Linked DNA regions of Homo sapiens. The protein of the gene in region 3 purifies or fractionates together with the protein of the main gene of each other region. This does not show direct contact. Each region holds a gene or a part of one and is shown on either strand. Other genes may lie near its edges. The genes, in order: FAM171A1, EMC1, RND3, ARHGAP35, VRK2, LTV1 and AHCYL2.

Region 1 (5,116 bases), on a different chromosome or scaffold from region 3:
AAACACATCCCTAAAGAGTACATCTGCACAGCTTACTGCTCCTCCAGGACAGCTCTCTCTATTGAACCCAGCCTCATTACAGTTTTGCAAAAGAGGTGAAGAAAATCAAAATGGGTCAATACTTTTGAACAACAATTTTGAAAAATTCCCAGAAAATAGATTCGATACTATAAATGCTCCAGAGCAACTGAGAGGAAACACTTAATAAAAATAGTCATAGTCTAGAGCTAGTTCAAATTCATGATAAACAAAGCCAACCCTTACCGTGACAACTGACTGTGGCATTGGAAATCACTTTGCCAATTCGAAGCAGCTACGGGAAGAGAGTCTGAAGCCAAGCCTCCAATTTTATCTTGAATATATAAAAAGCAAAGTAATGCCAAGAAATTCTGCAGATGCTAGTTTCATCAGATGACATAAAGACTCATTTAATCAAAAAGGTGTCATTTAGTTCTAGCAATCTAGTTGGACTACTACAGTATATGATTTCCGTCTGTTTGAGGTCTCTAAGCAGTTTTACCAAAGTAATTGCCAAATCCTGTTGGTGCATAATATGTATGTGCAATGCTTGTTCAAAGAATGATTCAAACAACAGATTCTACATAAAAGCAAGATTCTTACAAATTAGCTTTTGGGGAAGGTAAACATTGAACTTTTCTTCTTAAAATGCAAGCCAATGATGATCACTAAAGGTTGCGTTATGGTGTAGGTATTAGCTATGGTTGATGCTTACCTACTCAGCACCATCTGAGCACCAACTGTATGCATAACAACCTACAACCCACTGTGGGAAATGCAAAGTGAAATCAGATGCAGCATTTGTCTTCATCGTGTACATGATCCAGGAAAGCAGAGAACACATGAATTTTAAAACTACGTCATACTACAGCAAGTGAACATTAAGATGCTTTGAAGAACTCAGTGAGTTGGGACTGACCTTCTAATGTCAAAGGAGAAATTGTCCATTCCCTTAAAAATGCTGCTAGCTCAAAATCCAAATGCCAGGTAGTGAGACCTGATTTCTGAAAGAGTTCCTGGGCTCAAGGCTTTAAAAAGCCATCCTTACAGTAGATAACAACAAAGGAAGTAATCCAAGGGGTAAACTATGCCAAGATACTTGATCTCCCACTCCAACCATACCCTAAACTAAGCCACTGCTAGCCATGGCAGAAACCTCTTCTCATGTTGACCATTTCCCTCCCATTTCGCATAATATTCCATTCCTGAGAGGCGGATTTTTAGCAGCAAGAGCTGGGTAAAACGTGGTCTTAGACCTAAACCTGTTATATATATATTGAATATATATATATATATATATTGAAGACATGCCTTCCTTTCTCTAATTCAGAAGTGCATGAATTTAATATTTCCATATATTGGTATTTCAAGTGCAAAAGGAAAAATTCAACTTGCTCTTTAAAATTAACGGCCTCGCTGAAGTGCAAATATCATTCTCTAAAATAGCTGATTCAAAAAAGCAGTAGGGTATTAATAAAAGAAGCTGCAATGCAACACTGATGATCTAATGTCCTAAACATTCGTTTCCTACACGAAGAGACATATAGGTCTTTTTGTATTTTGTAGCTGTCCGCTCTTCCATGATATGCATTACTAAAATTATACACAATTCATAACGGTCATATTCTACCATGGCCATAGAAGCAGCAATGCATTTAAGATATACCAGGAAATGATACTGCAAGTGCCAGAATATGAAAACCTTCAACTCAACATGTAGGCAACAAACTCAACCCAACAGAGTGTTGGCAGAGCCTTTCCTCCCCGTAGCAACATCGTGGTGGAAGCCCGGGCGTCTCTGCTCCCAGGCACCCTGAGCATGTTAGCCGAGGAAAGGGGGTTCCAGCAAGGAGACCCTCGGATGCAGCACTCCTCGTTTCTTTGGCCTGCAGGGCCAACTTTGCAGGACACACACCCTTCTGAGGGGACAGGCCTCGGGCTCGGAATCCCGGGGTTCTGCAGGGCTGCAGGGAGCTCCCTCGCAGAGACCTGAGCCCCCGGCAAGAGTCCAGGCAGCGGTGCCCTGGGTGAATGCAGAGGCTCATCTGCGGGCCTCAGTGGCCCTTTTGAAAACGCCAGCAACAGAGGAGTCCTCGACGCTGTCCCCACAAAAATGTGCCAAGCAAGCCTCAGGGTGGGTGTGGGGGACTCCCCTCAAAAAACGCTGATTTTAAAAACAAAAGACAGGCTCGTGGCCATTCTCAGAGGCGACCACGTTACTCCCAGGGCTGGAAAGCAGATTTGTGGAGGCCAAAGACGAGACAAAAGGCACGAGCTGGCGACAAACTGATCTGGAAAGGATTTTTCTTTTTTTTTTTTTTTTTTTTGGTGAGCGATGAGGGCCTCCCAGTTCAATTCTTTCTTCCCTTACAGAGAAGACTCATGGGCCGCTGAGCAAATCCCTTATGGTCTGGAAGAGACGTCAGATAGGCAGGGGGAGAGAACCCCCCAAACTTTCCCAAACTGCGGCAGGCTAGTGGCTAGTGGCGGCAGCGGACCTCGGGGCCCCGGGACACAGGGGGCACCCCGGGGCGTCAGCCACCCCCTCCCGCCACAACAAAAGGCCCCAGCGCAGCCCAGGAGCTGGGACTTCCCAGACCCGAGCCCGGCGTGGGGAGCCGGGAGCGCGATCGGGCGGCGCGCCCTGGGCGGCCCCTCTGTCCGCGGCGACATGGGAGACAGAGCCGCGTGTCCGAGGCGCGGCATAAAGGGGACCCCCGGGCGCATCCAGACGAGCCCCCGCCGCAGCGGCGACAGCAGCTGGAGCTGCCCGCGCCCCCGCCCGACCCAGCCCCCGATCCCCGGCCCCCGAAGCCTCCGCCCGGGTCACCCCGCGTCGCCGGCCCGCGCCGCCCCCTCGGGAGCGCGTTGCGGGTGCTGCAGGCCCGGAGGCTCCCGATGCGGCTCGGGCTGCGTCGCCACCACGCGGCCCGGGACCCTCCCGCCGCCGCCGCCGCCGCCGCCGCCTCCGCGCCAGGCCCGGCGCGACACAAAGCCCCCGGCCCCGCCGCCGCCCACTGACCTTGGGCTCCGGCGCCGGGCTCCCGCAGCGTCTTGGTCACCGCCTTCCAGACGTGGCAGCCCAGCAGGCACAGCAGCAGCGTCGCGGACCTGCTCATCTCCGCCGCGGGGCCGGCGGCGGCTCGGGCTCGCCGAGAGCGGGCCGGGCGGCGGCGCGTCACGGGCGGCCGGGCGCCGCGCCCCCCTCCATGTCGCTGGCTCCGCGCGCCGGGCCCGCCGCCCGATTGGCCCGGCCCCGCCGCCCCGGCCGCTCCCTCCCGCGCCCCGCGCCGGGTTTCCCCGAAGAGCCGCGGCGGCGGCGGCGGCGGCGGCTGCTGCTGCTCCGCCAGCTCCTTAACCCCTTCCTGCCTCGCCCGCCGCCGCCGCCGCTGCCCGCGCCCAGGCCCCGGGCCCGTGGTGCCACCTGGCGGCTGCGGCGCCGAGGGCGCCCCCGCCCGGCGCCGCTGCGTCGCGCCCCCAGCCCGACCCCCGGCGACACTGCCCCGGCGCGCCCCATCCCCGCAGCCCCGCAGAAGAGCCAGACCTGCCTTTCAGGGCGGAGCCCTTTTCATCACACCAGGTCACCCAAGGGGCCGCAGGAGACATTGTATCTGGGTGTGACCCCCCCACCAGGTGCCATCCTAATGTAGTTGTGTCCCCCAACGTAGATTTCACACCCAGTGTTAAAGATCCGCAAAAACACTCCCCAAGCCAGTATAGACTGCAGTAGGCCTGCAGTACCTACGTGTTGGCGGGTGGACAGCTTCAGGAGGAATGGTACTTGGATGGTTCTAGGGGTTAGGGTGGGGAGGAAATCCACATCTTTTGAGGCCCTAGGTGCTTTAAAACTTTCTGTCCTATTAAAGAAAAAAGACTATTCCATGACACGTGTGAAAGCACAGCAAAGAAGACCCTCTTTGGAACCATCGCAATAGGTATAAGCCCTACCATGGGATTCTGCAGTCGGGGAGAAAGGTTGGGTTCAACTCTGAATACAGCAGGAACAAGTGGGGATTTATAACCGAGGACCAGGGTGGGATGCAGGGAATGAAAAATTATAAGAGGAAACATCAGGGGGAAGGGGGATTCTTGAAAGTCAGACATCCCCTGGCAGGGCTGGGCAGGACAGGGCGGATGGGGAAGCTGATCAGATATCCAGGGTGGAGGGTTCTTGGTAAACTGACTTAGCAGGGTTCTTCCTGAAAGCAGATTTTACAAGGAAGGGCACAACTGAGCCTAGAAGAAGGTTCCGGAGCCTGACTGTAGTTCGGTCAAGCAGAGACTCTTTGTCCATCTTCACAATACATGATCTAAGAGGTAGTTAGCATTATCCCCCCCATTCACAGATGAGAAAAGAGGCTAAAGAGGGTTAAGGAATTTGTCCAAAAGTGCATACCTGGTCAGTGGCAGAGCCAAAATTCTAATAAAACAGTCAGTCTGACCCCAAAATTGAAACTCTTCACAAAAACCTCCAGACTTGGCTGGGTGTGATGGTTCATGCCTATAATCCCAACACTTTGGGAGGCTGAGGTAGGTGGATGGCCTGAGTTCAGGAGTTAAGAGACCAGCTGGGCCAACATGGTGAAACCCTGTCTCTACCAAAAATACAAAAAAATTAACCAGGCATAGTGGCCCATGCCTGTGGTCCCAACTACTCAGGAGGCTGAGGTGGGAGGATCGCTTGAACCTGGGAGTGGGGAGGTTGCAGTGAGCCAAGATCGTGCCACTGCACTCCAGCCTGGATGACAGACTGAGACCCCGTCTCAAAAAAAAAAAAAAAAAAAAATCAAAAAATAAAACCACCAAAAAAACCACACACAAAACAAAACCAAACCTCTAGACTTTCCTTGAGCCTAGGGACCCCCTCCATTCCAACCTCAACTTTTCTTTCTCTCAACCCACTCCTGTCGGTATGCCTTCCACACAACCTTCACCTCCACTTGTCCCTCTCCACCTTCTCTTCCAACTAGCACTGCGGTGACCTTCCGACTTCCACTGGGGACCTAGGAAAATCCACTCCAGACCCATCATCCACCCCACACTGCTTCCAGAACACCAGGCCAGAAGGAGGGTTATTACTGTAATTTCATTAATTGAG
Region 2 (3,500 bases), on a different chromosome or scaffold from region 3:
TTACTTGAACCTGGGAGACGGAGGTTGCAGTGAGTTGAGATCACGCCACTGCACTCAGCCTGGCAACAGAGCGAGACTCCATCTCAGAAACAAAACAAAACAAAACAAAAAACAGGTTGGGCAATATGGCGAAACCCCATTTCTGCAAAGCATACAAAAATTAGCCGGGCATGGTGGTGGGTGCCTGTAGTCCCAGCTACTCGGGAGGCTGAGGTGGGAGGATCACCTAAGCCTGGGAGGTCGTGGCTGTAGTGAGCTGTGATGGTGCCTCTGTACTCCAGTCTGGGTGACAGAGTAAGAGCATCTCAAAAAACAAGCAAACAAAAAACAAACTAAGACACAAACACATTAGCCTGGGCCTAAATAGGGTCAGGATCATCAATATCACTGTCTTCCACCTCCACATACTGTCTTACTGGCAGGTTTTCAGGAGCAGTAACACCCATGGAGCTATCATCTGTGATAACAATGCCTGTTTCTGGAATACCTCTTTTTTTTTTTGGGACAGAGTCTTACTCTGTCGCTCAGCCTGGAGTGAAGTGGCATGATCTCAGCTCACTACAACCTCCACCTCCCGGGTTCAAGTGATTCTCATGTCTCAGCCTCCCAAGTAGCTGGGACTGTGGTGCACAGCACTATGCCTGGCTAATTTTTGTATTTTTAGTAGAAATGGGGTTTCACCATGTTGGCCAGGCTGTTCTTGAACTCCTGACCTCAGGTGATCTGCTCGCCTCCGCCTCCCAAAGTGCTGGGATTATAGGCATGAGCCACTGCGGCCAGCTTGGAATACCTCTTGAAGCACCTGCATGAGACTATTTTACAGTTAATTTTCTTTTAATAAGTAGAAGGAGTACTCTAACCATAAAAAGTAGATACGTAAACCAGTAACACAGTCATTTATTATCATTGTCAAGTATTATGTAGTATACATTATTGAATATGCTGTACTTTTATACAGCTGGCAGTACAGTGGGTTTGTTTACACCACCTTCACCGCAAACGTGATTAATGCATTCGACTACAATGTTATAGCAGCTACAATGTTACTAGGTTATAGGAATTTTTCAGCTCCATTATACTCTTGTGTGACCACCACTGTATATGCTGTATATGCGATCAATCATTGACTGAAACATTGTTTTGCAGTGCATGACTGTATAGTAAAACGTTAAAAGTATATGTACAAAGCTGGGCACAATGGCATGCACCTGAAATCCCAGCTACTTGGGAGGCTGAGATGGGAGTATTACTTGAGCCCAGGAGTTCAATCCAGCCTAGGCAGCACAGTGAGATCCCATCTCAAATAATAAAAAGTGTATCTATAGTGGTGGTTGTATTAGTTTTCTCAGGCTGCTATAATGAAATACCATAGACTAGGTGGCTTAAACAATAGAAATTGATATTCTCACAGTTCTGGAGGCTGGAAATTCAAGATCAAGGCATTGGCAGGTTTTGTTTCCTCTGAGGCCTCGCTCATTGGCTTGCAAAAGGCTGCCTTCTTGCTGTATCCTTACATGGCCTTTACTGTGCTTACACATCCCTGATGTCTCTTCCTCTATTGGATTAAGGCCTCACCCTTTTGACTTTATTAAAACATAATTACATTTTTAAAGGCCTTGCCGTCAAATACTGTAACACTGGGGGATAGGGTTTCAACACAGGAGTTTTTGAGGATACAATTCAATCCAGAAGAGTGATATATTACATTTTAAAATTTTTATTATTTATTTATTTTTTATTGTTTTGAGACAGAGTCTTGCTCTGTCACCCACGCCGGAGTACAGTGGCATGATCTTGGCTCACTGCAACCTCCGCTTCCAGGGTTCAAACGATTTTCCTGCCTTAGCCTCCCAAGTAGCTGGGATTATAGGTGCCCATCACGCCCAGCTAATTTTTGTACTTTTATAAGAGATGGAGTTTTACCATGTTGGCCAGGCTGGTCTCAAACTCCGGACCTCAAGTGTTCGGCATGCCTGGACCTTCCAAAGTGCTGAGATTACAGGTGTGAGCCACCGTGCCTGGTGGAGATTTTTAAATTGTTATAAGTGTTCCCCCCACCCACTCATTTTCTGTAATAAGGAGGCATTACTTTTATATCCAGATAAAACAACAGTATTTTATTTACTTATTTATTTGAGACAGAGGCCCACTCTGTCGCCCAGGATGGAGTTCAGTGACACGATCTTGGATCACTGCAACCTCTGCTTCCTGAGTTCAAGCGATTCTTTTGCCTCAGCCTCCCGAGTAGTTGGGATGACAGGCACGTGCCACCACGCCCAGCTAATTTTTGCATTTTTAGTAGAGATGGGTTCTCACCAAGTTGGCCAGCTGGTCTCGAACTCCTGATCTTAAATGATCCACCCACCTTGGCCTCCCAAAGTGCTGGGATTATAGGCGTGAGCCACTGCGCCTGGCCTGTTTATTTTTTTGAGACAGAGTCTTGTCAGGTTGGAGTGCAATGGTGTGATCTCGGCTCACTGCAGCCTCGACCTCCTGGGCTCAAGCGATCCTAATCGAGAAAATTATTAGCCTCACATGGTAGGCTACCAAGTACAAAGGAGGTGCTTGCTCTGTGCTGTTAAGAAGTGCTGTGATCTCAGTCGGGCGTGGTGACTCACGCCTGTAATCCCAACACTTTGGAAGGCCGAGGCGGGTGGGTCAGTTGAGGTCAGGAGTTCGAGACCAGCCTGGCCAACATGGTGAAACCCCATGTCTACTAAAAATACAAAAAAATTAGCCGGGCGTGGTGGCAGGTGCCTGTAATCCCAGCTACTCGGGAGGCTGAGATAGGAGAATCGCTTGAACCTGGGAGGTGGAGGTTGCAGTGAGCTGAGATTGCACCATTGCACTCCAGCCTGGGGGACAAGAGTGAGACTTCGTCTCAAAAAAAAAAAAAAGAAAGGTAAGGTGCCCTTTTGGGTGTCACTTATCTGAAGGTAAATATGTGCTTCCATTTAGAAGGAAGAGTTAGTATTATCTATTAGGAGCTAATTTTCTTCTCTTACTCTCTTTGCATCTGACTACATTGAATGGAAATCTTGCTTTTGGTCAGAGCTCTTCACTAACAAACACTTCTTTTTTTTGAGATGGAGTTTTGCTCTTGTTGCCCAGGCTGAAGTGCAATGGTGCGATCTCAGCTCACTGCAACCTCCGCCTCCCGGGTTCCAGCAATTCTCCTGCCTCAGCCTCCCGAGTAGCTGGGATTACAGGCATGCGCCACCATGCCCAGCTAATTTTGTATTTTTCATAGAGACAGACGGGGTTTCTCCATGTTGATCAGGTTGGTCTCGAACTCCTGACCTCAGGTGATCTGCCTGCCTCGGCCTCCCAAAGTGTTGGGATTACAGGTGTGAGCCACTGCGCCCAGCTAACAAACACGTCTTATGTGTCCTAAAATGAATGTGATGGTGATAGCCCTGTGATTTTTTTTCCGGAGCATTTTGTGGAATGGTGATTTTAGCTCCTTATGGTCCCCTGTACTCTTTTTTTCTCAGGAGACA
Region 3 (4,585 bases):
GGAGTCAGGCTCTTTCTCAGCCGTTCCAAGGGCAGCAGAATCAGGACTTTGCCGCCGTGTTTTCTGTTGGGGATGGTACACAGACTCGAAACTCTGGAGAAGGTGTTGGTAGACAGAATTCAAGTGGTTCCTTATTTCAGTAGTTCCTATCAGAATTATTTTACAGCCTGGTACTTAATGGGCTCTGATTCCCAGACATATCATGGTATGTATTTGTTATGCCTACTGGATGGCACAGCTGGTGTGGTACCGATAATAAGCACCAGTACTCCCTGCCCCAACCGGCAGCCCTGTTTGGACCTAATGCACGATAAAAATTATTTTGGCACGGGGTGGAGCAGTGTGTCTGAACCAGTCGTTGATACAAAGCTGTGTTTAGATCTTAGCTCCTGGTTACCATGGATTTCTGTGTGCAAATCCCCTATCTCCCTGGGTCTCATTTTCATCATCTGTAAAAAGAGGACACTGAGCTAGATGATGTGCAGGATCTCTCCCAGCTGTACACTTCTTGGCTTTATTACGCTGGACAGGCAGGTCTTTTTGTTTCCCAGGATGTTGGTTGGCTTCAGCTCTTAGTCTTAGGGGATCTGGCATCCCGTGCTGGGGTTTTCACAGCCTGCAAAGCAAGCCAGGTTCTGGGCAGAGCCAGGCTTCCTGGTGGATTTAGGAATGAAACCCATCTGGACAGGGAGGGGGAATGGGTGGGCTTATAGGAATGCTGGGCTATACATTTCCTATCTCAAGCTTCAAGAGTGACAGGACCACCAATGGATATTTCGGAATAGATGCCTAAAGGGCTAAATTGATTCTTTTAGGGGAGAAAAGGCACATTGTTTGATAAAGGCTAGAACATAAACCAAAATGTGGGCAGTTTGTAGTTGGAGGCTGTCCTTCGTATGTGCAGGTAAATACCACTTCAGGTATCTTCATGCATTTAATCAAAACTCTGCAGTTCGTAGACTCTGCACACATAGCACAATGCCTTGCATACAGCAGTTATCCAATAAAATCTGATGAATGAGTAAATGAGTAATGATATGCATAGTTGCCAAGGAGATGAGGTTCCCTGACATTTATTCACACTGAATTACCTGTGCACAAAGAATGGCAACTTTATAAACATTGCCTTTCATCGAATTAAAGATAATCATCTGAAATGAATTTGTAGTGAAATAATCACTTGTCTTTTTATTTAATGAAACCAAAACTTATGTATGTTTAACTAAAATATAAAGGTTTGAAAATGTGATGAAGAAAATTTTGTACTGCAAAATTATCCGGTAATGAAATCTTAGTTAGAATTTAGATTTAAACAAATGGAAAAAAGAGGCATAAGGGAATTATTTAGAATTCCATTATGTTGTTCATGAGGTGAAATGTTAGTTAGTTAAACACAGTCACCAAGCACTGCTTACTTAAATTCTAAGAATAGCCTGTTTCCATCAAAAGTGATTTGTTGTTTATATCTAGCAGGAACCATTGAATCAGCAACTAATTATTTCAAGGATCTTTAACATTTTTCCATTTAATTCCAAGCTTTTCATGGCAAATTTCTGGACAGGACTATTTTTTGGTAAATGTTTGACATTTTCTTTGCCCACTAAAACATTTATTTAGTTCAGATTGTAAAAATAATTGCATATGCCTTATGCCTCTTGATACATTTATTTTTTCCAAAGGCCATCAATATAACTCTGGAGAAAAGATCCCAGCCAAGTCTGTAAAGTTCTAAATGTCAGATAAATTGCACTTTTTATTTCCCTCCTAGAACTTTGTGAAAGAGACTTATATAGGAAAAATTGGGTGTGCCTGACTGCTCTTATATAGGGAGAGATACGGGATGAACATTGTCCTTTGAATGATATTTCCTGTCCTGTTTACCCTCCTAGCAGAAGGGCAACCATTTAGAAGACAGAAACAGTTCCTCTCTTATCTGGCCTCTTTAGTTGGACAGCTTCTCATAAGGGGTCTACTTTTGCCCCCAGCAGTCATGATCATGCATAGGCAAACTCTGCCAATTTGGATGTGAGAAAGACTACCAAGTGAAAGTAGGATATGTGAAGTCTCTTTGCACCAAGAAAAAAAAATAATTTCCTGCTTTTTAAGGCACAGTAACTTAATATTTCCTTCCTTTCTCCCTTTCTCCATCCATCTCTTCCTTTTTTCCCGCATCCACTATAAACAGGCCCTCTGTCAAGACCTTAGAGATACAGTGTTAATTAAGCATGGTCCTGCTCCTAAGAAGCAGACAGTTCAGGTGGGGTAATGGAGAAAAAGAAGCTCTTCTGGTTTAGCGTGTATTTCATTAACAACTCATGATGCACCTAATTTTGTCAGGTCCTTGAACCCCAGTGCCCTTTTCCACTTGGTTGCAATGTTTTTCCTTTGTCAGACATCCTAGGGCTTATAGATCCTCTGGATCCTCTTCAGATAGGAAACAGCTACCCCCGCACCGCCCCCCCCACCCCCGCCCATTGCACACACCAGTTAAAGCAACTACAAAAGGCATTTTGCCAGTCAATTCTTAGGGCTACAGTACTCCAGCCCCCCCAACAAAAGTAAACAAAACCTTTGTAAAAATGCTGTAGGAATCATCTAAAAGAGGGAATTTTTAAGGCCCATAACTTCTTCATTTTCCTAAAAAATATTTTTCATTATAAAATGAACATTCTTAATAGTTGCAGAAATGCTCCCATTGATTTTCAAATTTCACCCAATGAGTTTCTGCCAAACAATGGGTAATAGTTTCAATTGTGAAGTAATAAGTAAGACCAAAGTAATTCTAATATCTTGTGCTTCAAAATTGGCCACATTTGCCAAGCATAGAAGTAATTTGTAGCATGAAGCCAAATGCCTACTAATAATAGAAATGTAGTCATTTAAGGATCACTGTATCTTTTCCTAAGAGATTTGATTGCAGTGTAATTTCAGCACATGTGATTTAGGGAGTAATAATCATTCATTCCAGCTTTTTAACCAAGGCAAGTTAATGCACATTTTATTTAAGGCTTATTATTACTTTTAACATATTCAATTCAGCTGCTAAATTCCCCACAATAACTATGCTATTGCCTCATGAACACTCTTTCGAATCTTGTCATGATCCAAGTTTCTTTTAAGCCCTGAGTGCTAAAGTTAGTACTTCCTATTTTAGTTTTTAGCATTACTAACACTTAAGGTGGTATCCTTTATTTCTTAGAGAAAAAGAGAGGAAAAATATCTTAGTTACCTAATGGCCTTAATATGAGGACAAACTTCTCTATAAACAGAAGTCTATCTAAGCTGTTATATTTAGATTATTGTACATCAAGTATGAAGAATGGTCTTGGTGACAAGCTCTCTAATGAAATATTTCTTAACAGGGATGGAAATGGTTCAGCAGTATTGGAGATTAGTATATAATTAATCCAGAAAAGCAGCTTAAAAGGGGATCACTGCTCTCTCTCTCCCCCTCCCCTTTTTTTTTGGTGATTTAGCATATAAATGAACACATCTAGACAAGACATAAAAATGATTATAAAACCAGTAAACATGGTTTAGTGCTTTCTGTGTGCATACAATCTGCTAGATGCTATGGGAGGAGTACAGAGCTGGGTGAGAGCAGCTTCTGCCCTTAGGTACTCACAGTTTCACCATGTGATAAGACAGACATGGTGAAAACATGAGTGACAATAAAATTTAAAATATTCAGGCTTTCCCAAACTAACAAAAGAAATCAAATGAGAAGCCCGGATTAAGTGTCAGGTGTTTAGGTGAGAGGAGATGCCAGTAGACTGAGATTTGAACAGGGTAAAGACATCCTTCTTCCCTGACAACCTTCTTTGAATACCCACAGGACAAACAGAGGACATAGAAAGACTTCCTCCTGTCTAGTGCTGTAATACCTGTTTATAGGATGGTGAGCCCGGAGGTTCTAAACCTGGATTTTTCAAGGAGCAACAAGATCCAAAGAGTTCTTGAAGGCCACAAGGGCAGCCCAGGCTCCCTAACTCATGACTTAATGGTCATTGAGGCCCACCACAATTCCCTTCCTTTCTAGAAGTTGACTAAGTTCTAAGAAGTTTTTAACGTTTCTTCCACGTGGAAACTCGCTTACATTTAGTGGCTCTCAGATAAAACAAGATTCTGGAAGCTGAGAATTATAACTTAAATTAACGTTCTTGGAGAAAGGAAGAGGTTAAGAATTTATGAAGGAGCCAGAGAAGCATGGATGCTTGGGATTTGAATATCAACTGTGAAATTGCAGGAAACCAAGCATTTCATCAGGTAGTAATGATCCATTGGAGCTTAGGGTTTCAAAACTAGGTTTAATTCTTAACGAGTTTTCACACTGAAACTCTTATGTAAAAGACCTGGGTTAAGGTAAAACAGATAGTTTGTATGGTGGTTTCCAATAAGCAGTACATAAAACTGCATTTGGAGATTTGTCCACCATGCAGTAATTTCCATTTAAACCAAGGAACCTCCTAAAAAGGGGAGGGGGCAGTATGAATGCTCTTTCTAAGTCTACATCTGTCTGTAGATTTTTTTTTTTTAGCCGCATTTAGTGCTGTTTTTTTTCCAATCTGGTTTCTTGCTAAGTTGC
Region 4 (4,585 bases), on a different chromosome or scaffold from region 3:
TCAAGTGCTCAATCTTAGCGTCCACACAAGCTGGGCAGCTGGGGCATGTCTCCTTTGTTGGGTGGTACACAAAATGAATGTGTTTCAGAATAAGGGCATCACGCTCTGCTTGGAGCTTTTGTAATGCTTTAAATCGCTGTTCCTCTCCCAGAACATCCTGAATAACACCCATCTTCTCCTTGCTGGGCTTAGCATCCAGCTCCAGTTCATAAAACAATTCTGAATATTCCAAAAGCAACTCCTGAAATTCTTCCTTTGCTTTATCTATAATTTGCTTTTGGTGTTTGCCATAAATATCCATGTATACAGATTCCTCCAGCCACTGGTAGAAATCCTCATTCATAATAAAACTACGGGCCTCTTCCCAAGGCTTTCCGGGAGTTATGAAAGGAGAAGTCTCCAGGTTTTCTTTAAACGCCCTTCGCATCTCAACTCTTTTCCTTTCGTTCCTCAGCTTCTCTAAGTGGGCCTCGTATAGCTGCTCTGCAGGGACGGTATCCATTAAATCAAAGGGAATCCGTTCGTTTTCCATGTTGTCAATGTGACTGGTGGCATCCCATGGGGTCTCTTCAAGCACAACAAACCACTTCAAGAATTCTGGCTTGGTTTCTAAGAGCTTTTTGGCTTTTATGCAGCTTAGGTGGTCTATTTCATCTAGATTAGGTATAAGAGCTTCAAAAGCTAATGGCAGGGCTGCCAGGTACAGCTTTCTCCTACGCTCGATATGCTCATGCTTGAGGCGGTGGATGTGCTGTAGAAACAGCTTCTTGGCTTTCTGAGTCCCTTCCAGGTAGACATAGTCCTGGTATTCTGGAGAGGCCTGCATCTTTCGGCTGACACTCAGCCAGTTCTCATTGTGGTTTTTCACAATGCGACTCACCAGCCACTCATACTTGTCTTTTGCTGTAGCTATCTGCTGACTCTGCTGCTTGAGAGCTTCAAAATAAGGAATGATTTTTGTCTTTCCCCGACTTTTATCAATGAGTTGCACTAAGGTGCTGAAAGCCAAGTCCACGTTTACATTGGATCTCGCTGAGGTCTCCACAACCTGGAGGTTCTTTTTGCTTAAGGCAAAAGTATGTGCATCTCTAATGTACCGCTCAACACCTTCGTCACACTTAGTCAGGACCACCACTATGGGCTTTTTTGTTTTTGCAAGCTGATTGTAGAGATTGGAGACAAACTTGAGCTGGTCATCAAAGTTCCTATTCATGCCCCTGCTAACATCAATACCAAGAAGAAAACCATCAACCAGCAGCTTTCCGTCTGGCATTTGTTTCTGCTCAAAGTCCTGCTCCAGCCCCAGCTGGTCAGTGCAAAAGTACATGAGTTTTTCAGCTGATGCAAGCTTGGTCGCAGCAGCTCTCTTGATATAGGGCTGCAGGGCCGTGCTTCGATGAGGTTGAAAAGTCTGATCATCAATAAATTCAGTCTGCTCCACAATGTGCATCTTACATTCCACACAATCCTCCAGGGAGCGGCTAACTTCTCCCCAGTAGAGAAAGTGGTCATTATTGACCACTCGCCCTCCAAAGTCACTGGTGCTGAGGACGGAGGTATGGTCCAAGTGAAACTCGTCAGCACTCGGGCGCACGAAGCGGTTGCACAAACAAGACTTTCCAATCCCACACTGGCCCTTTTCCTTCTCGGTCCCAGATAATCCCACCACACTGATGTTGTAGGTGGGAATTCGGACATCTTGCTTTCTTGCCATCATCATCGTCGACACATCCTGCCACGATCAGCCACTTCTGAGATCAGATTAGTGTTTCCAATGGACCAGACAGCTTCCTACATTATTAGTGGGGGTGGGCTGGACATGCAGCAAAAATGCCAGGTCCCATAGTGTTGTATACCAGTATGGTCACTGTTCACCACCTCTCATCGCCAAATAGCCAACATTTCTTCCTAGATGGGGGAAAAAAAAAGAAAACCCATCAGCATCATAATTTTAGAACCAAATTTTAATCAATTAACTACAGTAAAAATTAATTTTTTATTCAACAAATATTTAGTAAACATCTCATGTGTCAGGCCTTGTGCTGGGTGAAGATACAAGAGCAAGTAAGACTCACATCTATGTGTCCCCAGAGAGGTACAATCTAGTCCAGTGGAGGAAAACATAAGTAAACAGTGTGCTAAGTGCTAAAACAAGGGTGTGAGGGCTCCCTGGAAAAAGGGCTGATTCCAGGGTTAGGGCAGGATAGGGACAAAATGAGCCTGGAACATCTTTTTATGCAAGAAAAAAAACGATGGAGCATCTCACAAGGACACAGAAGCCAGCCTGAAGGGGCTCCCACTGGCCAACTCTGGGACAATTTGAGCGCCACAATAATTAAGTATGGTAATGAATTATAAACCCACTGCAAAAACAGGAACCTGGGCCGGGCGTGGTAGCTTACGCCTGTAATCCCAGAACTTTGGGAGGCCATGGTGGGCGGATCACCTGAGGTCAGGAGTTCAAGACCAGTCTGGCCAACATGGTGAAACCCCGTCTGTACTAAAAATACAAAAATTAGCTGGGTGTGGTGACATGTGCCTGTAATCCCAGCTACTTGGGAGGCTGAGGCAGGAGAATCATTTGAACCTGGGAGGCAGTGGTTGTGGTGAGCTGAGATCTCATCACTGCACTCCAGCCTGGGCAACAGAGTAAGACTATCTCAAAACAGCAACAACAACAAAACATGGAAGCAACCCAAAGTATCCACCTACTCATGAATGGATAAGCAAAATGTGATATATACATACAATATAATATTATTCAACCTTTATTTTTATTTTATTTTTTGAGACAGAGTCCTGCTCTGTAGCCCAGGCTGGAGTGCAGTGGTGCGATCTTGGCTCACTGCAACTTCCGTCTCCTGGGTTCAAGTGATTCTCCTTCCTCAGCCTCCCGAGTAGCTGGGATTACAGGCATGCGCCACCGTGCCCAGCTAACTTTTGTATTTTTAGTAGAGACGAGGTTTCACCATGTTGCCCGGGCTGGTTTCAAACTCCTAGGCTCAGGCGATCTGCCTGCCTTGGCCTCTTAAAGTTCTGGGATTACAGGCGTAAGCGATCACGCCTGGCCTATTCAGCCTTTAAAGGGAAGGAAATTCTGACAACATGGCTGAATCTTGATTGTGCTAAGTGAAATAAGCCAGTCACAAAAAGACAAATACTATATGATTCCACTTATATGCAGTACTTAAGAGTAGTCAAACTCATAGAGACAGAAAGTAGAACAGTGGTTGTCAGGGGCTGGGGAAAGTGGGAATGAAAAGTTACTGCTTAATGGGTACAGAGTTTCAGTTTTACAAGATGGAAAGTGTTACAGAAATAGTTGCATAACATGAAAGTATTTAATATCGCTGAACTGTATAGTTAAAAATGATTAAAATGGCAAGTTTTATGTTTTGTGTATTTTAACACAGTAAAAAAAAGATTGAAAAAAAAAAGAAATGCAGGAAGGATAAATCCTCCCAAATAAAATATTTTATCAATGTAAATCTATAAAATCTATCATGTGAAAATGTCTCCACTTTTAGGAAACTGACACCTTAGTATTTTGAGGGGAAGGGCCATAATGTACGTAACTGATCCCACTGGAAAAATTATGTATACAGAAAGAGTAAGAACACAAATGGGGTGGTAAATTGTTAACAACACATGAATCTGAAAAAAAAAAATAGATGAATCTGGGTAAAGCATATAGGATATTCCTTTGTGCTATTTTTACAAGTTTTCAATCATTTCCAAATAAAAAAAAATTAAGTGTGTAAATACGAGATGGTTTCCCTGACAAGAATGCAAGCTCTGTGAGGCCTGTCCCCTGTTTAGTTCTATTCTGTGTCCTCAGCCTATGACACAGTGCTTGACACAAATATTCACTGAAAGAATCAATAACTGAATGATGATTCAGCATATTAAAAGGTCCCCAAGCCCAGCCTTTCAGATTCGGGAAAGCCTTTCTGTAGGAAGTTCCATCTCAGGTGAGACCTGAAGTATGAAGTGCATTTAAGACAGAGGGACAGAGTGTGCACAGACCCTTCCCTCCGCAAAAAAAAGCACTGCCAGTTGGGAGAACCAACTGGAACAAAGTGTGTGTGGGGAAAGAATGGGTAAGATGCATTAGCAAGGAACCAGGGACTGGATCAAACCACTTTAAGAGTTTGGATTCCTTCGCTGGGCGCGGTGGCTCACGCCTGTAATTCCAACACTTTGGGAGGCCGAGGCGGATGCATCACGAGGTCAGGAGATCAAGACCATCCTGGCTAACATGGTGAAACCCCGTCTCCACTGAAAGTACAACAAATTAGCTGGGTGTGGAGGTGGGCACCTGTAGTCCCAGCTACTCAGGAGGCTGAGACAGGAGAATGGAGTGAACCCGGGAGGTGGAGCTTGCAGTGAGCCGAGACACGCCACTGCACTCCAGCCTGTGCGACAGAGCGAGACTCCATCTTAAAAAAAAAAAAAAAAAAAAAAAAGAGTTTGGATTCCTTCCTGAAGGCTATGGGGAACCACAGAATGTGGCCAAAAAAATGGCACCTTAAAGAACCTAAAGTTTTAACAGCTTAAGTTAAACAAACTGTTATGGCTTACAGTC
Region 5 (4,585 bases), about 92 Mb from region 3:
AGCTTGTTCTGGTATGTAAAACAAAGCTCTAAGGAAAAAGAAGATCAGACTGGAGAACCAAAGCCTAATTGAGTTTGCAGTGCCATACACAGCACATTCTGTCACTTACAGAGCCCATTGTTATCAATTTCACCAAAATAGCCTCTACTCCTAATAACTGATGTCTCTAGGGCAATAATCCTTCATTCTCTAATAATTCCACAAAGGGAAAAGATTTCTATATTGCAAGAAGTAAACAATTTGGAAATGGAGCATGCGAAATAAGTAATTCTTACCATTCGGATACCTAATTGCAGGACAGTTGACTTTTTAAAGGTACCATTCTGGCCTGAGATCTTCTGTAAATCTATTCCTAGTCTTTCCATTACCATAAATCTGTAACTGTAAGAAAAAAGCATCAAAAAGAGATCATCCTGAGAAAGTAATGCTTGAAACTGTCTATTTAATTTGAAACAAGAAAAATTACGCTCAACCTAACAACTAAGTATAATGCAATCTAAACCATTAGAGAATGAATGCACGTTCATAATTCTGCTATTCTTTTGCAGAAACTGCTCAATATTTACTTTGCAGCTGATTTTCTATAAGAGAATGCTGTACTGAACCATTCACACTGTTTTACATAATGAAAAAATCTTTCTAAATTAGATAGTACTGAATGCAATTCATTTTGACTCCATGACTTTCTTGCCATATGGCCTTGAACAAATTATTGTACACACTTGATTTTTTTTTTGAGACAGAGTCCCGCTCTGTCACCAGGCTGGAGTGCAGTGGTGCAATCTCAGCTCACTGCAACCTCCACCTCCCAGGTTCAAGCGATTCTCCTGCCTCAGCCTCCCAAGTAGCTGGGACTGCAGGCATGCACCACCACACCCAGCTAATTTTTGTATTTTTAGTAGAGACGGGGTTTCACCATGTTGGCCAGGATGGTCTCGACCTCTTGACCTCATGATCCGCCTGCCTTAGCCTCTCAAAGTGCTGGGATTACAGGCATGAGCCACCGTGCCCAGCCACATGAATTTTATATTTGTTTGTTTCTTGATAAGATCATATATACCGTCTCTATACATTTATAAACATGTCTTTAAGTGCACTTCTTCCTTTTCTGTTCTGTTTGGCACCTTCCATACCTTCTTTCCTTCCCTTCATTTATATATCCACATCAGCCCCTATTCTATATCTATGCATGCATACACAAACACACACACTTAGGAATTTGTTTTACAAAAATGTGATCATATTATAAGTATTTTCTCCATCTTACTTTTTTCAATAGTATCTCATCAAAATCCTTCTAAGGCAACTAGTATAGCTCTAATGGACTTCTTTAATGGGCTACATATGACATGATATGGATGTATCATGATTCAATCAGCCATTCAGTCCCCCAGTGGCAGTCCTTTACTTCAAGATTACTGTTTGCTCATTTTTTTAAATTTAAAGCATTTAGAGACCATTTCAACAAAGTACTGACATCTGAGCTTATTCTCTCATCTATGGAATAAAAATAATATCACCTATTTTAACAGGCTATTCAAAGGACAAAATAAGATAAAGTATATAAAAGTCTCTGGCACAAAAGGGTAAATATAAAATGACACACTTTTTTTCTTTTTTCAAACACTATTAATAAATTATATATAGGACTAGCCATATTTGGTGGTTTTAAAGATATTTCTATAACTTATTTGTTGTGCTTCTCCTCAAGAGATAGAACTGAATTCTCCTCTCTCAGGACCAATGGATCTATCTAGTGACTAGCTTCTAGCAAAGAGAATAAAGCAGAAGCGATAATATCCCTTTTAAGATTAGATTACAAAAAACGATGACTTCCTTCTTGAATGCACTTGTGTGCATGCTCTCCCCGTCCCCCAATTAATTGCTCTAGAGAAAGCCAGCTATTTTTCATAACACTCAGGTAGCTTATGCAAAGACCCACATGATCAGGAAGTAAGAAGGCCTGCCAACAATCACATAAGTAAATTAGAAGTAGATCTTCTTAGGCCTACCAGTAGCCACATGAGGAACCCTGAAAACAAATACTTCCCCAGATGAGCCTTGAAATGAATGTAACCCAGCAGACAGCTGACTACATATCCTTATTAGAGATCCTGATCTAGAATCATACAGATAAGCCACTTGCAGTCTCCTCACTCACAGAAACTAAGACAATACAAGTTTGTGGTTATATGCCAATATGTTTTGGTAATTTGTTACATGGCAATAGTTAACTCATAGACCACATAAGGAATAGTTATAAAGAAATATTTGATTATAATAATTCCATTTTACCTTCTTCCCTTGAATTCAGTCAGACCAGATCCATAAAACAGAGGAATTCCTAAATAATCAAGTTGTTTGCGTTCTATCCACTTTTTGACTACAAAGACAAATTTATTTTTAAAAAGATTCATGTTATTTGAAAAGATACTTGTCACCTTTCTACAGACAAATTTATTTAGCTAACCAAAAAAGTAATTAGATCTTCCTAGAAGATAATTTTTTTTCAATCAAACATCTCTATCTAATGGCCTCAAACTGTTACCACTATAATTAACAAAAAATTAGAAATTTTTAAATTAAATCAATAAAAACAAGTCATAGGCTTTGTATATTGATACCATATATATTAATGTTTCAATCTATAAAAAGAATTCATTATCTTATATACTAGCTAAATTTCTAAATATAACATATGTTAACCACCAAAAGATCAGTAGAGAGATGGCTTTTTCTTCCCTATTACTTCAAGATTTAAAACCATAATGGACCAAAAAAAAAAAAAAAAGAAAAAAAAAGCAGAAATTGGGCAGAAAAACCATCTTACTTTGAAATTACTTTATACAAAAACTGGTTTTGATTAGTTTACAAAAAATCAAATCCACTTAAATAAAGTTAACTTTCATCATTTTTTTCATGACTCTAGCCTATGTTTTTTATGTTTAAGACAGCTCTACTGATAAACAATCAAGTTTAATGGATTCTATTTGTCACTGTGACATAGTTTAAGCAATTAGTAAAGATTACAGTCTTAATGTTTAGAAGACTTTATTAAGAAAAACTAAGTTAAATATTGAGGTCAGACCCATCACTCTTATTCTTAAACATGATGTAAAGGACCTTGACTATACAGTCATTACTCCTGTCTACTTCTTTAATGTTTTTCTTAGCCCATCTATATCACATTTATAAAATGCTGTTATTTTTCCTCTCTGCTTATATTCATTTCCCATTCAAGTCTTCTAACTGGTCATTCTTACACTTGGTATCCAGCTCCAATTAATTTTCCAGCATTCAAGTTTCTAACATTTTCTTAAACATCTTAAAGTTTAATCATTTTCACATTTCCACACACCTTGCCCCAATCCATTCTACAATCGTTCTTTTTTTATACATATATCTACTTCCCATTTTAATGTTTTTTCCTTATAGCCGTCCTATCCAAATGGTTTACTGTAAAAGAAATAATTTCATTCTACTATCTTTTACACTTAGGGAACTCTTGGTAGCTTAGATTAACAACCTAACATTTTATGTAAAGTAGTAGAAACAACTTTGACTTAAAATATATAACCCATTATGTATGTCATGTCAAGATTTGTATACCATCTGTCTTGCTTTTATATGTTGTAACAGTTAACTGTATCACTTTACAATAAAATTTCTATTGAAAAGAATTTTCCAGAAGGCCAGAAAAAGACCAAAATATCAACACTCACTTTAGCAAGCACATATATGGAAGTAGCTTGCTTTGCTAATTTTACTTACTACAGTCTTTTTTTGCAACTCTCTGATAAAATTTAAGTTCTGAAAATAACGGGCCATTTTCTTGATATTCCTATAAAAAAAAGAATAATTAATTTTACTAGAAAAAAATAATCCCAAAGATGGAATTGTTATTTCAACTGTGAAAATATGAACATATATATGTAGTATATAATAGTACTTGAATCACTTTTTATAAAACATAGGCACCAGATTTCCACTAAAAATCTCAGAAAACACTAAATAAACTTGAAGAATCTAATTTTTAAACGACATATTGTACCACTATCCCTATACAGTCTTACACATAAAAGTAGTTTTCTTACAGAGAACACTTACTAGAAGCACTGAGAACTGTATACATAAACATATACAACACTCACTGTATACCAACATATACATCCAGGTGATACACAGCAAACTCTCCTTGTGGTCCACTCACACATGATACCTTTACTGAATGGTCTACTATATTTCATTCATTATACTAGGTACAGGGGACACCAAAAAGAAATAAAACCCTATGCTTGCCTTTAAGGACCTTACCATCTTGATTAGAGAGGTGGAGAGGGTGGGAGGGCATTTGGGAGGGAAAGAGAAAGAATAGCTAGATAGATAACACACCAGGGTAATAGCTGGCAATACAGAAAAACAAAGGTTCTCCAGTTTTAATGTTTTAACAACGTCAAAACAGATGATAACATTAGGTTTACTGATAAGGCAATAGTTACAAAAATTAACGTGAAAAACATTCTTAAAGCAGAAAAGGAAAAAGTCAAATATATGTGAAATACAAATCTATGAGCAACACTTACCA
Region 6 (4,585 bases), on a different chromosome or scaffold from region 3:
TATGTTTTGCAAAATACATTTATCCATATGAAAAGATAAAGCAATTAAAAATACCTGAAACTGGAGCTGCTTTATTTAACAATCCAACATCTTCCTCAAACTCTGAAGCAAACACTGATGAAGGCAACTTAATTCCAGTGCTCTTGAAAAAGAAATTGCACAATGGTTAGGTTTATTTGGAAATTCTTCTTAACTAGTGTACCGGGTTGAAGTCCCCCCCAAATCAATGTCCATCCAGAACCTTAGACTGACCATATTTGAAATAGGGTCCTCTCAACTATAATAAGATGAGGTCTTACTGGACCATGGTCCTATAACGAGACCACATGAAGACAGAGACTCACAGGGGAGAATGCCATGTGCAGATGACAGCAGACTGGAGTGAGGCCTCTATAAGGCAAGGAATTCCAAGGAATGATCACCGGTAACCTTCGGAAGTTAGGAATGAGCCATTCAACAGCCTCTCCCTCTAAGCCCCCAAGAAAAAAACCAAACCTGCTGATACCTTCATCTCAAACTTCTGACCTCCAGAACCATGAAGGAAGAAATTTCTGTTGTTTTAAGTCACCTAGTTTGTGGTAATTTGTTACTGCAGTCCTAGGAAACTATTACAACTACATTCTGTGTTCTCTCACCTGTGCTCCAGGTTGTATATATGTTAAACATGTATATTCCATCATAAACCCAAAAGTAACTCTCTATAATACATCACAATGCCTTCTCTAGCAAATTATTCCATTTATCCCTCAGATCCCATGAGGTATCACCATGTTTTACCAAAAGAACAAAAACTAGGAAAGTTTAAATGGCCCACCTGCCTGAGAATGATCAGTAAGTGAGATTCTGGGATTCAAATCCCAGAGTTTCTTAACTCCACTTGCCTGAAATTTCAAACCAAAATTAAACATTTTCCTCTTAAACTAGAGATAATGTCCTAATCTCTAGTAATGGCACAGCCCTTGTATGAATTGGCAATCTTAAATCCTCGGGTGGTTATAAATCATTTTGCTCTGTCCTATGTCCCCTTGAAATCTCTTACATACAGTGATTTCACTCTATTCTTTGGGGCATCACCTCATTTATAGTTAACCAAAACATAAATGACTGCAACCGCTCATATAGCTAGTCTATATCTACTACAACCTTCATACCCATGGCGAGATTAAGCTCCTTTAATAGTTTTTCATGTGACCTTCTTGAGTTTCTGACAGGTCTCAATTTTTCACTCTGTATTTAAGGCCCTGGTTCTCAAGGACCTATAAAATCAAGGCCTACTCTGTGTATCCAAATTTCTCAGTTATTCTATATGACCATGCAAATCAAGTTCATTCCTCAGTCATGTAATAATGCAAAACACTTTACTTGGCGCGCATGTGCCTGACACGGAACCACAGTGCTCACTGTCTCGGCAGCCTGACTGAAAATGTTCCTTCTCCTGTCAACAGTACCCACCACTTGGTGGCCAGCTCGGTTCCTACCCTCCGACATGAAGCCCTTTCTGATCACTGTCCTAGAACTTCCCTTTGTGTGAACTTCCCGCCTTCTTCACACGCTGCAATCTACTCAAACATGTGCTTGCTAGCCTACATTCTCTGACTGGTTCTTATGCTTGTTTCCTCTCCTTGACCAAACAGTTCATAACGTGAGGACAACCGCCATGTGTTATTTATCTCTGTGCACCTCACCACCTGCCCTATCCTCAGCCCAGGAGGAGGCACAAAGCTGGAATGTGCATCCTCATTGGCTCACTGAGAAAGCTCTCTGAATTGGAAGCCTCTGAGGAGCATGAGTAAAGGCTACATATGGCAGTGTACACACAGCAAGATGTTATGGCTTCCAAAATGAGTTTCTCAGTAGCACAAACATGGGCAAAGATGTTATTTTGCTGTAGAGTATATTTTTAAGAAAACAGCTTTACTAAGACATCATTCACATACAATTCACCTAAAGTGTACAATTTAATGTTTTTTAAGGATATTACATTATTAATTACTTAAAATTGTAGTAAAATCTACATAGTCTTTTAGGTTTTTAAAAAGGTACCTTTGTGATATTTATCCTTAGAAGTTTGGGGTTAAACACAAGGTCAGTTTGTGTTAAATGAATTTACCTTTGTGAGATATTTTTCAAATCTTGAAAAGTAGTCAATCACATACACGATTAAGAGTTTAAAGAGAAATTACTCTGTTTTTAGAGGAGTGCTGTGTTTTCATTGGTTGCAGTAGTTCTCAACTACATGACATTTGCCCAGCTACTTTCCACAACAGCACCACCATCTTTCTTTCATGTCAAAATCAGGGCCTGCTCAAGCATCAATCATTTCTATACTGCCTTTTTACACTGTCTTACACTGTTTCTAGGGGTTATTCATTATTTCTAATCTACTCGAATTTGGTGGTGTGTTACAAATTAAAGTAAAAAAAGTATATGGGACTAATCCATATTTTTTCATAGCTCTTCAGAAAACCAACCACACTTCTGTTTTTAAATACAATTCAGCTGTCCCTGCAAAGGTCACTGAAGTGTCCATTTAAGAGCCTTATCCTGTTAAAAAGCCAATTAGTGATTGCTTTTACTCAAAATGAATTAAGGATTAAAAGTTAGTCTTATACGACCGGGCGCGGTGGCTCACGCCTGTAATCCCAGCACTTTGGGAGGCCGAGGCAGGCAGATCACCTGAAGTCGGGAGTTCAAGACCAGCCTGACCAACACGGAGAAACCCCGGCTCTACTAAAAATACAAAATTAGCCGGGCACAGTGCCACATGCCTGCAATCCCAGCTTCTAGGGAGGCTGAGGCAGGAGAATCGCTTGAACCCGGGAGGCGGAGGTTGCGGTGAGCCGAGATCGTGCCACTGCACTCCAGCCTGGGCAACAGGAGCAAAACTCCGTCTCAACAACAATAACAACAACAACAAAAGTTAGTCTTGTACTGGTCAATACAAGCCAGGCAAGACTTTACTAAGAATTTTCTCCCTTAGATAAACAAGTTGAGCCACTAAGGAACCCCTTCTCTCCTTCAATAGGTTATAGAAGCAAGTGAGCCAATAAGTCCCTACTACCAATAAAGCCTTGAGGAAGAAGGAATAAAGAAGTTGGTTCTCTATGACAGAGATGTGGTGGGATTTGGGGCGTTACAAAAGAGCCACAACCTACTTAGTGAACGAGCAGCTGCAGTTATTACCTTTCTTTGGGATGGTATCCTGAAACCTAACCTTTCTGAGTCTCCTTAAGCAACAAGCTATTGCCTATAAGAACTACAATCACATCTTCCCCAAGGAAAGGAATGCCTAGACCATGACAGAATTGGGGAATGAGGAGCAGGGTAAACTGGTGCCCTTTCTATCTCTTACCTTTTGCTTATAAACCTAATGAATGTCTCCTTTTTTTAAAGTGCTAGGTGATATAAAAGTTTCCCACAGGAAAATTTACTCTACATCAAATTAAAAATAAGGTCACGGAGGCATACAACATGGGCATTCTTAACATAAACAGGGGAGAAAACAGAACTTAGACTAACAGCACTAATTTCTTATAAACACGTACTATCATTTGTCCTGAAAGAGAAGGTATTAAAGTGGACCGAACATTTGTTTACAAGACAGGAATGTTATTATCATCCACTCATTCTGTTTGCTTATGAGTAGCCTGCAGCTTTTACAAAAGTGTTAAAGATCTGAATATTCCACAAAAGTTAAGTCCTATCTTAGAACAAGAGTTTATGATCCTGAAAACAGTTATGTTGTTAACATGTAGAATGTCAGCTGCTTTTCTCCTATTGAAAAGTGCTGTCTAACATGGCCATGTCTATCAATCAAAAGTTCTGAACCTATAAAAAGGCTGTTACTGTTGACACCTGCCACCAGAGAAGACGTGACCTATTCTCTCCTGATGGTATACACATGCATACACATATATAATTTTAAGTGGAGGCGTGGTCTATCTTTGTGCTCTTCATACGGACACCATTTCTTGCCCCAAACAGATATCTTGATTCAAAAATGATTTCTTCACCTCACTCCCACAATTAAATTGCTGAAAAGCCTTACTGGAATTACTAGCGTTTCTTCTTTCTCCTCTCTCCTGTTGTGTGCACTGAAGGTACTTGAGGGAATAAGCTCTGAAGGCCCAGATGGTTCCTTCAGGTGCTGCAGGTAGTCATAGTCGTCATCAAAGAACACTCCATACTTCCTCTGTTCTGCTCGCCTTTCTTCATTGTCTATCTATAAACGAAATGGAATTAGTACTTTCTTCACTATCTATAAACAAAATGGAATCAGTAAGCCTTCCAAGGATAAGGCATGGGAATATTACAATGAGTACAGCTTTCCAAGTAGGAGGCAGATGGCACATGAACATTTTGGCTGATGGGAAAAAGACAAAGAATTCTTGACAAACAGGAAATGTACAGCTTCAAAACCAGAGTGCTACGTAACATTAAAATGGAATGAAAACATTCATGCTTTTAAAAGGGCAATAAAAATAAATAACAATTGCTCCTTCCACTAGACATTTCTGTGCAACATTTTGAGTCAAGAAACAAACATACAATTTATTTTATCATCTATTTGGAGGGTTATAAGAAA
Region 7 (4,585 bases), on a different chromosome or scaffold from region 3:
TCTAAGCTAAGAACTAGGTGCCCCAAACCAATAGATTTCTACTGATAGACCCTTGAAAAAAAAAAAGAAAATAAAATCACCAGCTTTTAGTGCAAGCGTCCAAGAGGGAAATAGCTAACTGAACTGTTGCACGATACAGCTGGGGAAAAGGGAGACTGAAACCCATACAAATAATCATCTAATTTAATCAAAGTAATTTTAGAGTTGGGAACTGTTACAGAAGAAACGTCAATCCACTGCCGCTTTCTGCTCTGCTCTCACCAAATCGCAGGCCATAGGTCATTCAGACTATAAAAAGCTCCTACAAATTCCATAGAAATCTGATCAAGTTTACTAAACCTCTTGTTGGGTGAATGGAATTTCAGCTCCTCTAATTGTGTCTACCACCTAAACATGACAGCAGGGCAGTGGATCAGGGCAACTGCCAAGATTGTTCTCTTCCCATCTGCCTCAGTTGTACCTCTCTAAATTATTTAAACAAAAACCACCATGAAACAAACTGCATATTCTTTATAAACTTGACAAAGGGTCTGAATAAAGATTACAACAAACTTTTTTTCTCTCGTGGGGGAGGGAATCACTTCCAAGGAAATGATATAATAAACTCACTCTCCCTTTTTAATGAACTATCGATTTCTTCAATTAACTGGATACTGAGAATGTAGGTAGTACTAGTAGTAGTAGTAGTAGTAATTGTCTTCCTCAAGACATCAAACACACAACTGCAACTTCAGCTCCTAAAGCAGCTTTTTTTTTTCTTTTTTTTGAGACAGAGTCTCATTCTGTCGCCAGGCTGAAGCGCGGTGGCATGATCTCGGCTCACTGCAACCTCCACTTCCCGCATTCAAGCATTCAAGTGATTCTCCTGCCTCAGCCTCCTGAGTAGCTGGAACTGTAGGAGTGCACCACCATGCCCAGCTAATTTTTTGTATTTTTAGTGGAGACAGGGTTTCACCACATTGGCCAGGATGGTCTTGATCTCTTGACCTCATGATCTGCCCACCTCAGGCTGCTTTCTCAGAAAATAAATGCTCACAAAAACACACGGTAAGACCTTCAACCACGCAATAAATAAAAAGAAACTGTCAGTGCAATAACAAAAAAACTACCCAAAAAACACAGATTAAGATTTAGGGCCAGGCGTGGTGGCTGACGCCTGTAATCCCAGCACTTTGGGAGGCTGAGGCAGGTGGATCACGAGGTCAGAAGTTCACGACCAGCCTAGACAATATGGTGAAACCTCGTCTCTACTAAAAATACAAAAATTAGCCAGGCGTGGTGGCGTGCACCTGTAGTCCCAGCTACTCGGGAGGCTGAGGCAGAAGAATCACTTGAACCCGGGAGGCAGAAGTTGCAGTGAGCCAAGACCGCACCACTGCACTCCAGCCTGGGCAACAAAGCAAGACTCCATCTCAAAAAAAAAAAAAAAAAGATTTAGAAGGTTCATCCTGAGTTTCGAACAGAGTACTATTTGAATTGAAAAGCAACAGTTTAGGGCTCTGTTAGTTCCATCACATTACCGTGTAACCTTGAGACAAATTCCTTAATCTCTTCGACACTCAGTTTCTTCAATAAAACAAGGAGAACACTAGCTATCTTCGAGGCCTCTTAAAAGAATTAAATAGCCGGGCGCGGTGGCTCATGCCTGTAATCCCAGCACTTTGGGAGGCTGAGGCGGGTGGATCACGAGGTCAGAAGATCGAGACCACCCTGGCTAACTTGGTGAAACCCAGTCTCTACTAAAAATTAAAAAAATCAGCCGGGTGTGGTGGCACACACCTGTAGTCCCAGCTACTCAGGAGGGCAAGACAGGAGAATCGCTTGAACCCAGGAGGCGGAGGTTTCAGTGAGCCGAGATCGCCACTGCACTCCAGCTTGGGTGACAGAGCGAGACTTGGTCTCAAAAAAAAAAAAAAAAAAAAAAAGAATTAAATAAAACAGTATATGTAAAGCTCTAAGTACAATGCCTGGTATACAGTAGGAATATTCTTCCCTTTGCAATTTTCAAAAGCTCTTATCAAAGATTGACTCATAGAGATGGTGAGGCTTAAAGAATAGGGAAAAAGTGTTAGCTGAACAGGAAGAAAGGGTATATTCCTCAGGTACTCCAAATTTATTTATAACTTTTAAAATATGGATAAATTTCTCAGATTATCAGTAAATTACCAGTGTGAAGCTGCATCATTGATCTTGAAATGCTTTTCTGTATAAGATGCTTTTATTCTCCTCTTCTAAATTTACAATTCTTTCAAGTTCTACATTTGTACAATTTTCTCCCATCCTCTTCCTAAAGCTCTAACTCAGACCTGCCTTACTTTGGTCTTGGGATGACCTAAGCCTTAGCCAGACAGACACGCCTTAGAGTTCACTTAGTATTCTAAAAGACCTCTGGGAGAAAGCAAGAACTCAGCATCTAAGAAGTTAGAATCACTGTGGCATAATGAAAAGGACATGGGCTTTGGAGACGGACAGCCCTGGATTTAAGTTCTACCTCTGACACTTTCTAGATGTATAACCTTGGGCAAGGCACTTAACCTCCCAGGATCTCATTTCTGCATCTATAAAATGGAAATAATGCCACCTACATCTCATAGTATGGTTGTGAGGATTACAGAACCCCTATGACAACTCCTGGCACATAAAAGGCTAATGGCTCACATCTGTAATCCCAGCACTTTGGGAGGCCGAGGCAGGCAGGTCACCTGAGGTCGGGAGTTTGAAAGCAGCCTGACCAACATGGAGAAACTTCATCTCTACTGAAAATAGAAAATTAGCCGGGCATGGTGGTGCATGCCTGTAATCCCAGCTACTCAGGAAGCTGAGGCAGGGGAATCGCTTGAACCCGGGAGGCGGAGGTTGCGGTGAGCTGAGATTGCACCATTGCACTCCAGCCTGGGCACCAAGAGTAAAACTCTGTCTCAAAAAAAAAAAAAAAAAAAAAAAGGCTAATTATTGGTAACTATTATTACAGACCAACTGCCAATTGCCTTACTGAACACTTTTCAGAGCAGTACTCTTGTAACAGGCAAAAGGAGTCATACTGCTACCACATTCCCATGTCTTTATCCAAAACATTCCATTTTAGTACTCTATAATTAACCAAATCAAGAGCTTAAACAATTCAGGACAAGAAGTGCTAACATGGCTCAACTCATTCTCTCCTGACAGCAACAAAGCCAGTGGAAGGTGGATATGTTTGCCAAAAGCAATAAAGGGTCTGTTTGAACACGGTCATTACTGATACTGATGTAAGCACAATCTAGTTGAGGTTCTTGGGCTTGCAGCCTTATTGTCAGAAAGTTTTAATATTTCTGAAATAAATCCTCTCCTGCCTTGTTTTCCCTGCTGTGCGCCAACACTCCTATCACTCATTTTCAAGAACACAAGGAAGAAATCCCTTTCAGCTAGTACTACCTCATTCCCTGTGGAACTTACCTTCCCATTTCCCAAATTACTTCTTATAGAGATTTTTGGCTTGCTGGGTTCACTTGATGTCAACTTATGAAAAAGGACACTATAATTAAATATATCATAGCCACATAACATGATCTGGCCCCCAGAGCATCGCAAGTTACAGGACGGAGGCAGGTGCCAAAGATAAGATGTGATTGAGTAACCTGCACACCATATGTTCCTTCTTATTAACTACTGCACTTGGGAATTCTGGCTCTTGTAAAAAGTTTATTCCCCTTGTGTGGCTGAGCAGAGTAACAAAACTAAGAAAACTGATGATATGTGAATGAAGTAAGGAAAACCATCTATGGAAATGTGACTTAAAATAAATGTTTATACATGAAAGTTAAAAAACAAATGCAACAGTCACCAGTTCCACAGCCAAAGGCAGCTATTTCAATACTAGTATTCTCAGTTCCTTCATATGCTATAAGAAAAACAGTAAGGAGTCAAGGTCAAAGTGGTTATTTACATAGACAATCTAAGAATCAACAAAGGCTCAACAAATCAAAATGTCACACTGCAGTTCCTTGGTGAGATGACTTTCAACTTAGGGAAAGGGCAGTCTTGGGCACTTATTTTGATTTAGCCAATTCAATATCAAGAAGGTTAAAGATTGGGCACCTGAAAAGCAGCTCAGCAATGCCCTGAATTTCGTCATCCAGCTGTATCCTTGCCCAGAGCTTCACCTGCTTAACTTTCAGCAGAGAAGTTGTTTTTTTGGTGCAATTAACATTGTAAGGCAAGCTCAGCCCTGCTTTACAATAGCCTTGAGGCTGCTGAGTATATCTACAATCATGGAACATACATTTGGTGCTGAAAAAACAGGAAGATGGTTCAACGACAAGGAAAGTGGTCAAGAAGCACATCTAGAATTAAGAAAAACAGACTCCAGTATGCTGGTCTTTGATTTTTTAACTTTTTTTTTTTTTTTTTTTTTTTTGAGACAAGGTCTCACTCCAGCACCCAGGCTAGAGTGCTCATTGCAGCCTCAACTTCCTGGGCTCAGGTGATCCTCCCACCCCGGCCTCCTGAGTAGCTGGGACTATAGGCACACACCACCATGCCCGGCTCTTTTTTTTTTTTTTTTTTTTGGAGAGAGAGGTTTTCACCATGTTGCCCGGACTGTTCT

What was found.
Region 1: the proteins of RND3 (region 3) and FAM171A1 purify together in Homo sapiens (affinity purification with mass spectrometry, with the first as the bait; one large-scale study listed by BioGRID). This does not show direct contact.
Region 2: the proteins of RND3 (region 3) and EMC1 purify together in Homo sapiens (affinity purification with mass spectrometry, with the first as the bait; one large-scale study listed by BioGRID). This does not show direct contact.
Region 4: the proteins of RND3 (region 3) and ARHGAP35 purify together in Homo sapiens (affinity purification with western blotting; 2 studies listed by BioGRID, with this or other methods). This does not show direct contact.
Region 5: the proteins of RND3 (region 3) and VRK2 purify together in Homo sapiens (affinity purification with mass spectrometry, with the first as the bait; one large-scale study listed by BioGRID). This does not show direct contact.
Region 6: the proteins of RND3 (region 3) and LTV1 purify together in Homo sapiens (affinity purification with mass spectrometry, with the first as the bait; one large-scale study listed by BioGRID). This does not show direct contact.
Region 7: the proteins of RND3 (region 3) and AHCYL2 purify together in Homo sapiens (affinity purification with mass spectrometry, with the first as the bait; one large-scale study listed by BioGRID). This does not show direct contact.

What each region holds. Positions count from the first base shown.
Region 1 is NC_000010.11:15,367,916-15,373,031, forward strand, and holds the start of FAM171A1 (protein FAM171A1 precursor), read right to left. Parts: upstream 3,375-5,116; 5' UTR 3,138-3,374; coding exon 3,041-3,137; intron 1-3,040. UniProt on the Homo sapiens protein: Involved in the regulation of the cytoskeletal dynamics, plays a role in actin stress fiber formation.
Region 2 is NC_000001.11:19,245,025-19,248,524, reverse strand, and holds part of EMC1 (ER membrane protein complex subunit 1 isoform 1 precursor), read left to right. Parts: intron 1-3,494; coding exon 3,495-3,500. UniProt on the Homo sapiens protein: Part of the endoplasmic reticulum membrane protein complex (EMC) that enables the energy-independent insertion into endoplasmic reticulum membranes of newly synthesized membrane proteins.
Region 3 is NC_000002.12:150,480,607-150,485,191, reverse strand, and holds part of RND3 (rho-related GTP-binding protein RhoE precursor), read left to right. Parts: intron 1-4,585. UniProt on the Homo sapiens protein: Binds GTP but lacks intrinsic GTPase activity and is resistant to Rho-specific GTPase-activating proteins.
Region 4 is NC_000019.10:46,915,811-46,920,395, reverse strand, and holds part of ARHGAP35 (rho GTPase-activating protein 35), read right to left. Parts: intron 1,909-4,585; 5' UTR 1,721-1,908; coding exon 1-1,720.
Region 5 is NC_000002.12:58,084,137-58,088,721, reverse strand, and holds part of VRK2 (serine/threonine-protein kinase VRK2), read right to left. Parts: coding exon 4,584-4,585; intron 3,842-4,583; coding exon 3,772-3,841; exon of another isoform or gene 3,723-3,771; intron 2,384-3,722; coding exon 2,296-2,383; intron 382-2,295; coding exon 276-381; intron 1-275. UniProt on the Homo sapiens protein: Serine/threonine kinase that regulates several signal transduction pathways.
Region 6 is NC_000006.12:143,845,688-143,850,272, reverse strand, and holds part of LTV1 (protein LTV1 homolog), read right to left. Parts: intron 4,223-4,585; coding exon 4,049-4,222; intron 143-4,048; coding exon 55-142; intron 1-54. UniProt on the Homo sapiens protein: Essential for ribosome biogenesis.
Region 7 is NC_000007.14:129,227,420-129,232,004, reverse strand, and holds part of AHCYL2 (adenosylhomocysteinase 3), read right to left. Parts: intron 1-4,585. UniProt on the Homo sapiens protein: May regulate the electrogenic sodium/bicarbonate cotransporter SLC4A4 activity and Mg(2+)-sensitivity. On the contrary of its homolog AHCYL1, does not regulate ITPR1 sensitivity to inositol 1,4,5-trisphosphate.